Linked DNA regions of Homo sapiens: region 1 is linked to region 2. Evidence: fine-mapped expression QTL. A gene starts in region 2. The other region holds a variant in brackets. All regions are shown on one strand. Distances are from middle to middle.

Region 1 (4,384 bases), 39 kb after region 2:
CTCATGCCTATAATCCCAGCACTTTGGGAGGCCGAGGCGGGCGGATCACGAGGTCAGGAGGTCGAGACCATCTTGGCTAACACGGTGAAACCCTGTCTCTACTAAAAAATACAAAAAAATTAGCCGGTGTGGTGGCGGGCGCCTGTAGTCCCAGCTACTCAGGAGGCCGAAGCAGGAAAATAGCGTGAACCCAGGAGGCGGAGCTTGCAGTGAGCTGAGATCGCACTACTGCACTCCAGCCTGGGTGACAGAGCGAGACTCCACCTCAAAAAAAAAAAAAAAGAAATGGAATGTGAATGATTAGAATTGCTATCAGATGACAAGTTTGGGGAGGAGGCATTCACACCCTACCAAAAAAGGTTTAAAGTATAACATAAGTTATGACAAAATATTCAACTTGCAAGACAGAGTTGGTGTATGTACACATTTACCTGACTCCCAACATTAAACTTACTCAAAAGAACAAAGTGGGCCAGGCACATTGGCTCACGCCTGTAATCCCAACATTTTGGGAGGCCAAGGCGGAAGCATCGTTTGAGCCCAGGAGTTCGAGAACTGCCTGGGCAACACAGTGAGACCCTATCTCTACAAAAAAAAAAAAATATATATATATATATATTTAAATATATATATATATTTTAAATTGGCTGGCCATGGTGGTGCATGCCTGTGGTCCCAAGTTCTTGAGAGACTGAGGCAGGATGATTGCTTGAGCCCAGGAGGTTGAGATTGCAGTGAGTAGTGATCGTGCCACCACACTCCAGCCTCGGTGACAGAATGAGACCCTGTCTCAAACAACAACAATAACAAAAAGAAAAGAAAAGAGAAGGAGAAAGAGAAACAGAAGGAGAAAAAGAAAAAGAAAAAAATGACCCCTACCCCAAAAAGGTAAATGCTAAACCCATCATTCCATGATACTGGAATGTTCACACTGCCACATCACACACACATTACAGGGAATGTGCAGGGCTGGTTTAGTAAGCCTGGGTTGTCCACACCCTGTACTTTCTTTTTTTTTTTGAGATGGAGTTTCACTCTGTTGCCCAGGCTGGAGTGTGGTAGCACGATCTCAGCTCACTGCAACCTCCGCCTCCCAGGTTCAAGCGATTCTCCTGCCTCAGCCTCTTGAGTAGCTGGGATCACAGGCGCGCATCACAATGCCCAGCTAATTTTTGTATTTTTTAAGCAGAAGCGGGGTTTCAGGATGTTGTCCAGGCTGGTCTCAAACTCCTGACCTCAAGTCATGCCTATAATCCCAGCACTTTGGGAGGCTGAGGTGTGCAGATCACGAGGTCAGGAGATAGAGACCATCCTGGCTAACATGATGAAACCCCATCTCTACTAAAAATACAAAAAATTAGACGGGCGTGGTGGTGGGTGCCTGTAGTGCCAGCTACTCGGGAAGTTGAGGCAGGAGAATGGCGTGAACCCGGGAGGCGGAGCTTGCAGTGAGCAGAGATCAGGCCACTGCACTCCAGCCTGGGCGACAGAGCAAAACTCTGTCTCCAAAAAAAAAAAAAGAAAGAAAAAGAAAGGTCTGATCCTTGACTGGCTGTAACCTCTGAGCCCTTGGGATATCCCGCCTGTTAAAATGTCTCTGCCTGCCAGGGGCACTGGGCCATGGTGTATTAGGGGGATCTCTGGAGGGCCTGAGTAACCAAAGTAATTTATATAGGCTCCATGCCTACATAACACATCCCTCAATAAAGAAACCTAAGCACCAAGGCTTGGGTGAGCTTCCTGGTCCACATGGTCGTTTGGAGAATTAAGCACTGTCTACGCAACTCCACTGGGAGCTGAATGAGCTGAATGCTGGTCCTGGTCTCTCCCGGACTCCCGTTTACATGCGTGCCTTTGACCACTGTAATTTTTTTTTTTTTTTT[G/TG]AGATGGAGTCTTGCTCTGTTGCCCAGGCTGGAGTGTAGTGGCGCAATCTTGGGTCACTGCAACCTCAGTCTCCTGGGTTCAAGCGATTCTCCTGTCTCAGCCTCCCAAGTAACTGGGACTACAAGTGCAAGCCACCACACCTGGCTAATTTTTGTATTTTTAGTAAAGACGGGGTTTTACCATGTTGGCCAGGCTGGGCTCAAACTCCTGACCTCGGGCGATCCGCCCACCCCGGCCTCCCAAAGTGCTGGGATTATAGGCATGAGCCACCATGCCTGGCCTTGTAATTTTAATCTGTATCTTTTCAATGTACTAAACTGTAACTGTGAATATAAGAGCTTTTCAGAGTTCTGAGTCCATCTGGTCAACCTGAGAATGGTCTCAAGGACCCGCACACAGTGAACACCAGGCTTACTTAAAGAAACAGGCCTTCAGGAATTTCAAGAAAAGTGGGCCATTTCTTCACAGCAGAGGTCCTCAACTGGGGGCAGTTTTGCTTTCCGGGAACATTGGCCATGTTTGAAGACAGTTTCCAGAGTTTGGTGGGAGTGGAGGGGGGAAGAGGTGTAGAAGGGGACAGCTACTGGCTGCAATCTGGTGGGCAGAGGCCAGGAAGGTGTAAAACATTCTACAGCTCATGGGGCAGCCCTAGAGGATGATCTGGCCCCAAATGCTGACTGTGCTGAGCTGAGAAATGGCTTTACAGGGAGGAAGAACCTTGCGGGCAAGCCTGTGTCAGGCACAGGACTCTTAAGCCTGAGGCCAACCTCACACATCAGCAGATGTGAAGAAAACCTGCAGCCACAGAGCACCCAGCCCTGTTTATTTTCACCACCTTCTCTTCCTGAACGCGAAGGAGAACTCAGAGGCCAGTCAGGACACACTAACAGCAAATGCTGAACACTCTTGCCTCCCCTGCACAAGGAGAAGAAACTCACCCTGATGCCACCAAACCTGTGTCCTGTGTCCCCTCCCTGTTCTGCCTGTCCCTTTGCATGCTGATCAGGGCATTGTAATTTTTTTTTTTTTTTTACCGTGACTTAGTGGGTTGAATGATGGCCATATCCTAATCCCTACAACCTGTGAATATGTGACCCTACATGGAAAGGAAAGACCCACGTTGAGGATCTTTAGATGGGGAGACTGTTGGGGTCACCACAATGATCCCTACAATGAGGGAGGTGGGAGGACCAGAGACAGAGGAGGAGAAGTGACAACAACGGGAGGCTCCTGAGCCAGAAACCCACACCCACTCTGTACTGAGCGCACAGCAGACCCTCACGTACGCACTCCTCTGCCTGGAAGCCTGTGACATCGATGCTCACACGTGTACTGAGCAGTGAGAGGGGAAGTCCTTCCTGACGCCTCCTGCGTGCTCTCCTCACATTCAGCCAAAACCCTGTGTCCCCGTCTTCCAGGCACTATGCACCGCTCCACAAGCCTGCCCCATGCCTGGCTCAGCCACTGTTTCTTGTGCGGGTTACCACGGTGGGTTTGATGGGGTCCTGCCTTTGACTTTTCTCCTCTCTCCCAGGAAGCCGCAGGGACACCACAGAATGAAGCCTGTGTCACAGAACCCTGTGGAGTGCCAGCTTTTCGCTGCCCTTAGGAGAAAGCCCAAATTCCTCCACAATCTCCAGATATCCCTTCCCAGATTAAAAATCTCAGCCAGGCGTGGTAACTCACACCTGTAATCCCAGCACTCTGGGAGGCCAAGGCTGGTGGATCACCTGAGGTCAGGAGTTCAAGACCAGCCTGACCAACATGGTGAAACCCCGTCTCTACCAAAAATACAAAATTAGCCGGGCGTGGTGGTGCACGTCTGTAATCCCAGCTACTCAGGAGGCTGAGGCAGGAGAATCACTTGAACCCAGGAGGCAGAGGTTGCAGTGAGCTGAGATCGTGCCATTGCACTCCAGTCTGAGCAACAAGAGAAGTTTTAAAAATCTCCAGACACTCCCCACAGACCTTGTGACGTCTGTCAGTCTCATGGAACACCTTCCAGCTCCCCGGCCCCACAACACCCCACCTCCAGACGCATTTTCAGGCTTCTCTATCCTCGGGTGGCTCCGCACCTTGCTGCCTCCCCAGGCCCTGCCTCCATGCCGAATACTGGCCATGCCAACAAAGCTCCAGGCTTCTGGCACAGGTCACACACTGGGGTGTCTGCTGCACTCCAACAGCATTTAAGACACAAAAGGAAAATATGAGGAAGACAGGGAAGATAAAAAGCAGCTTGGAAGTCTCCATGGATGAGTGGGGAAAAAAAGCAAAAAGAAGGTGGGTGTGAGGGTCCTACCTGTAGCTGGAAGGGCCCCTCGGACCGCTGGCGGGGCAAGGGTCTGGCTCCGTCAGCCCGTGAGGTGAGCCGCCCTCCAGGCCAGGCTGTGCCTAACACTAGGCCCCAAGATGAAATCAGAGCCACAGCACTCGCAGAGGCTGCCAGGACCAGCAAGCTGCCGGCCTGGAGCGGCTCAGTGTCTTGTGGCCCCTGTAACCA
Region 2 (4,384 bases):
ACCTCCAGAACCTAAGAACAAATGTTTTAAGCCACAAAATTTGTAGTGAATTGTTACAGCAGACACAGATAACCAGATAAAACACTGGACCTTGAAGCTCTCCATTCTGGTCCTTGTCTCCTGTGATGGACAGTCTCCAAGATGCTCCCCCACCACCTCTGCCAATGACCTCCAGCCCTGGTGTGGTCCCCTCCAACACTCAACAAGGTTGACTTTGTAACCAGTAAGACACCGTGGAAGTGACAAGAGTGTGAATTCTGAATCCAGGTCATGGAAGGTGTTACAGTTTCTACCTTGCCCTCTCCTGGATCACTTGTTCTGTGGGAAGCCAGATGCCATGTTGCAAGGATCCCTAGCAGTTCCAAAGAGAGGCCTACATGGAGAACAACTGAGGTCTCCTATCAACAGACATGTGAGTGAGCCATCCTGGAGGTGGATCCTCCAGACTCAGGTCTCAGGTGACAACAGCTATGCTGACATCTTCACTGTAACTTCATGGGCCTGAACCAGAACCACCAGCTAGGACATTCCATTACTCCTGTCAGAACTCGTGAGATATTTATTGTTGTTCCAGGTCACGAAGTTTTGAGTTACACAGCAACAGGTAACTAATACACTTTCTCTCAAGCCTTTCTTACGACTCATTCCTTGTCCCCCATCCACAGCAAGAACAAAATAAAACGTGGTAGCATTTCATGCAAATTTGGAGCAACACACATCTGAAAACCTGCAACCTAAGATTATCAAGTCTCACTTTGTGTACCAAATCTGAAATAATGCAAATCCCCATGAACAAACCAACGACAAAAAATAAAAAAAAGTATAATTTCAAAGTTGCAGAGCTTGAGGAAGGATAATTATTGTTGTTTCCTGCCACGCGAGGCAGCTTTATGGAGAACACAGGCCGCAACCACTTTGTCTAGAAAGTGGAGCTCTGATGGCCAGATGGCCCTGCAAACACTGACCGCCCTGCACTGCAGTTCTCCCACAGTCTCGCAGGGGACGACCCTGGTGGTCACTCTCATCACACTCAGTGCGTGGTGACCCATCATTGCCCCCAAGAGGTTGTGCCCAAGCCCCAGGGCAGGGGCTCCGCGGTGCTGGGGTCCCGGTGGGTGTCCGCTGACTCCACGCGTTAAAGCATCTCTATTCGATGATTCTTGCCATCTGGGCACCCGGCCAACGCTACAATTACTGTTATCAGTCAACACGAGGACAGACCTTCCTGGAATGGGCAAGGGTGTCGGCGGGGCGGAGCAGAACGCAGGAGATGGGCCTGCTCGATTCTCTCGGGAATGACCGACCCCAGCCCTGGGGAGGACAGAGCCGCGTGGAGCATGCGCATTCGGGGGCCAGGCGCCTGGTTGGAATCCCGGCCCCCTCTCTGACCAGCCAGGACGGTCACCACGCCCCGACCCGCGTCTGAGTTTCCCCACGTGTCAAGGGCATTAACAGCGGTGCCGCTCTCATCGCGCCGCGAGGTGAAAGGGTCAGTCTGCGCGGGAGACGCTTGCCCGGAGCCCGCCGCCGTCGTTATTGTTGTTATTGTTACCTGAAGCCGGGCCGCCGGCGGCCCCACAGACATCACTCCCGCTACCCCTTCGTCCTCGGGGTCCATGCTGGATCGCCCAGTGAAGGACAGCGCCTGAGGTGATCCCCAGACCAGAGAGGCACTCCAGCCAAAGGGACCACCCGACTCGCCGAACGCCGGACAATGGCGGCCGCACCGGCGACGCGGCGACTACAACTCCCAGTAGGCCGTGCGGCGAACCACAGCCCTCGGCCAATGGGAGTCTCCGCTGGTCTGGCCTTCGACCAATGGAAGCATTATGGCCGATGGCCAATGGGAGCCCCCACCCGCTGGCCTCTGGCCAATGGGAGCACTCAGCTAAGGCTGGTGGGGGCGGTGTTGCTCGGGGCTGCGATGCCCCTTAGGTTGCGGGCAACCAGAGGCCTCACTCGTGGGCAGGAAGCAAGGGCGGACCCCGAGAGATGACTGATTGTGGGGGTGGGGACCGTCTGCTCCTCCTAATGGCTGGGGACCGTGCACGTCTGCGCGGGCCGGACCTGCTCTTCTCGGGAACTTGCGCGGGAGGAGGCCCGGAGCTGCGCCGCTTTACCCTCTGCTCCCCGGTGCCTAAAACGCACACGCATCAAAGTCACAGGACGAGTTAGAGGTTTGTTCATATAAAAGACTTTGGGCTTAGCGGCTGGAAGCGGGGAGGCTGGGAGCGGTGGTTGTGTTACAGGAAAGGGGTCCGATTCAGACCCCAAGGGAGGGTTCTTGGATCTCGCGCAAGAAAAAATTCAGGGCGAGTCCGCAGTGCAAAGTAAAAGCAAGTTTGTTGAGAAAGTAAAGTTGTGAAACAGCTACCCCATAGACAGTAGGACGTTCCTGAAAGTAAGAGGAACGTATGCACCCTAGGTACAATGCTTGTGTATATTTGGGCTAAAAATAGATTTTGGGGAGATGTGCTCTGCTACAAGGGTTTGTGAAAAAGGATTAATTTTCTTACTGTATTTTTCAAGAATCGATATTATTTTTAAAGCAAAATTAGGAATGCCTTTGTTCTCTAGATACCGGGATATCTGGACACTCCCAAGTCTGGGTCTGTTTTAGTACCCATTATTAATTTGTTCCCTTAACCGTAAACATCTAGAGGTTAGGAATACCTACTTTTCTGGGAATGCAGCCCAGCCTCATTTTCCTAGCCCTCACTCAAAATGGAGTCGCTCTGGGTCGAATGCCTCTGACAGCCCTATTGCTTCTCCCTGTGGGTGTTCACTTTGTGATGTGTCTTTTTCTGTGGGTCTGTTGTAGTCCATTAAAATGTTTATTAAAGGTCGGGCGCGGTGGCTAACGCCTATAATCCCAGCACTTTGGGAAGTCGAGGCGGGTGGATCACGATGTCAGGAGCTCGAGACCAACCTGGCCAATATGGTGAAACCCCGTCTCTACTAAAAATACAAAAATTAGCCCGGCGTGGTGGCGGGCACCTGTAGTCCCAGCTTCTCGGGAGGCTGAGGCAGGAGAATCGCTTGAACCTGGGAGGCGGAGGTTGCCGTGAGCCGAGGTCAGGCCACTGCACTCCAGCCTGGGTGACAGAGCAAGACTCCGTCTCAAAAAAAAAATAAAAAGTTATTAAAAAAGAAAAATGGGGAAGCAGATTTCCATTCAAAAATGTTGCATTCAAACCACAACAATTTTTAACTTTTTTAAATTTTACCAAGAGCCAGACACATAGCAGGGAACAGTATAGTTACTTGTTATTTGCTCACCCCCATGGGGCTGATGGTGTAGTCTGAGGGACTGAAGATCAACCATGACATGGCCCTTCACACCGTGTTGAAGGGGTGAAGACGTTACCAGTGGGGACGGAGGAGCTGACTCCCGAGGGGCTCAAGCTGGCCACACTCTCTCAGATCCTTCTGGCCGACTCCTGAGGGCTCAAGCTGGCCACACTCTCTCAGATCCTTCTGGCCCTGTACCGTCTCTGCTTTTTGCTGGGCCTCGTTCCTGAGAAGGAGCAGGTGTTAGGCAAGTTACACAAAATTATGAGAGGACATGGTTTTGGACTGAGCTCCTGCTCTAGGCCTCATGAGACCAGACCAAACCAAGACAGAGTCACTTAGGCTAAATGCCACATAATCAGACTGATACTTTAAGCAGGTAGATCCCTAAACAAACCAGATTTCCAGTCTACCTGAGCAGCATAATAAGGAAGTCCCCTCTGCTTTAATCCTTACAAGAAAAGTAACCTAGTGTTAACTAATTAGCCTTTTCTCTATCTTACAAAAACCACTATTCTACCATTTGCCCCGTGGGAGCTCTCATTCCGTTTTGCAGAGTGGAGGCTGCCCAGATTCATGAATCACAAATAAAAGCCAATTCGATCTTTAACCAAATTTGTTAAAATTCTGTCTTTTGGCTGGGTGTGGTGGCTCACGCCTGTGAGTGAATCCCAGCACTTTGGGAGGCTGAGGTGGGTGGATCACCTGAGGTCAGGAGTTTGAGACCACCCTGGCCAACATGGTGAAACCTTGTCTCTAATACAAATACAAAAATTAGCCAGGTGTGGTGGCGGGCACCTGTAATCCCAGATACTCAGGAGGCTGAGGCAGGAGAATCGCTTGAAACTGGGAGGCGGAGGTTGCGATTAGCTGAGATTGCGCCACTGCACTCCAGCCTGGGCGACAGAGTGAGACTCCATCTCAAAAATAAAATAAAATAAAAATAAAATTCTGACTTTTGACAGATGTCTTCACTCACCTGAGCAAGTGGCAGCTGCTGTGGGAACTGGATCAGGCAGCCTTCCAGGAGACTAAATCTGTCTTCTATTGGGAGTCCCAAAAAGCTCCCAGGCAGCATCCCCTTCTCTGTAGG

The links. PIP is the estimated chance that this variant, and not a neighbour inherited with it, causes the effect. A credible set is the group of variants that fine-mapping cannot tell apart.
Region 1: its variant is the best candidate, but not a certain one, in a credible set for the expression of ZNF8-DT in whole blood (INTERVAL, PIP 0.87).

The regions. Positions count from the first base shown.
Region 1 is chr19:58,237,398-58,241,781 of GRCh38, reverse strand. All of the region lies in intron 3 of ZNF544 (zinc finger protein 544), which reads right to left. Among named protein-coding and RNA genes, the nearest start is that of ZNF544, 11 kb to the right of the region's middle. The variant G/TG (reference allele first, on the strand shown) is at 1,884.
Region 2 is chr19:58,276,316-58,280,699 of GRCh38, reverse strand. ZNF8-DT (ZNF8 divergent transcript) reads left to right here and starts at 1,958. Exons shown (of 3, transcript NR_187495.1): 1 at 1,958-2,177. It overlaps ZNF8 (zinc finger protein 8), which reads right to left and starts at 1,745. Exons shown (of 4, transcript NM_021089.3): 1 at 1,553-1,745. The coding sequence starts at 1,618. It overlaps ZNF8-ERVK3-1 (ZNF8-ERVK3-1 readthrough (NMD candidate)), which reads right to left and starts at 1,734. Exons shown (of 7, transcript NR_144447.1): 1 at 91-1,734. It also overlaps a transcript of ZNF544 not described here. RefSeq lists enhancers at 1,150-1,199, 1,620-1,669.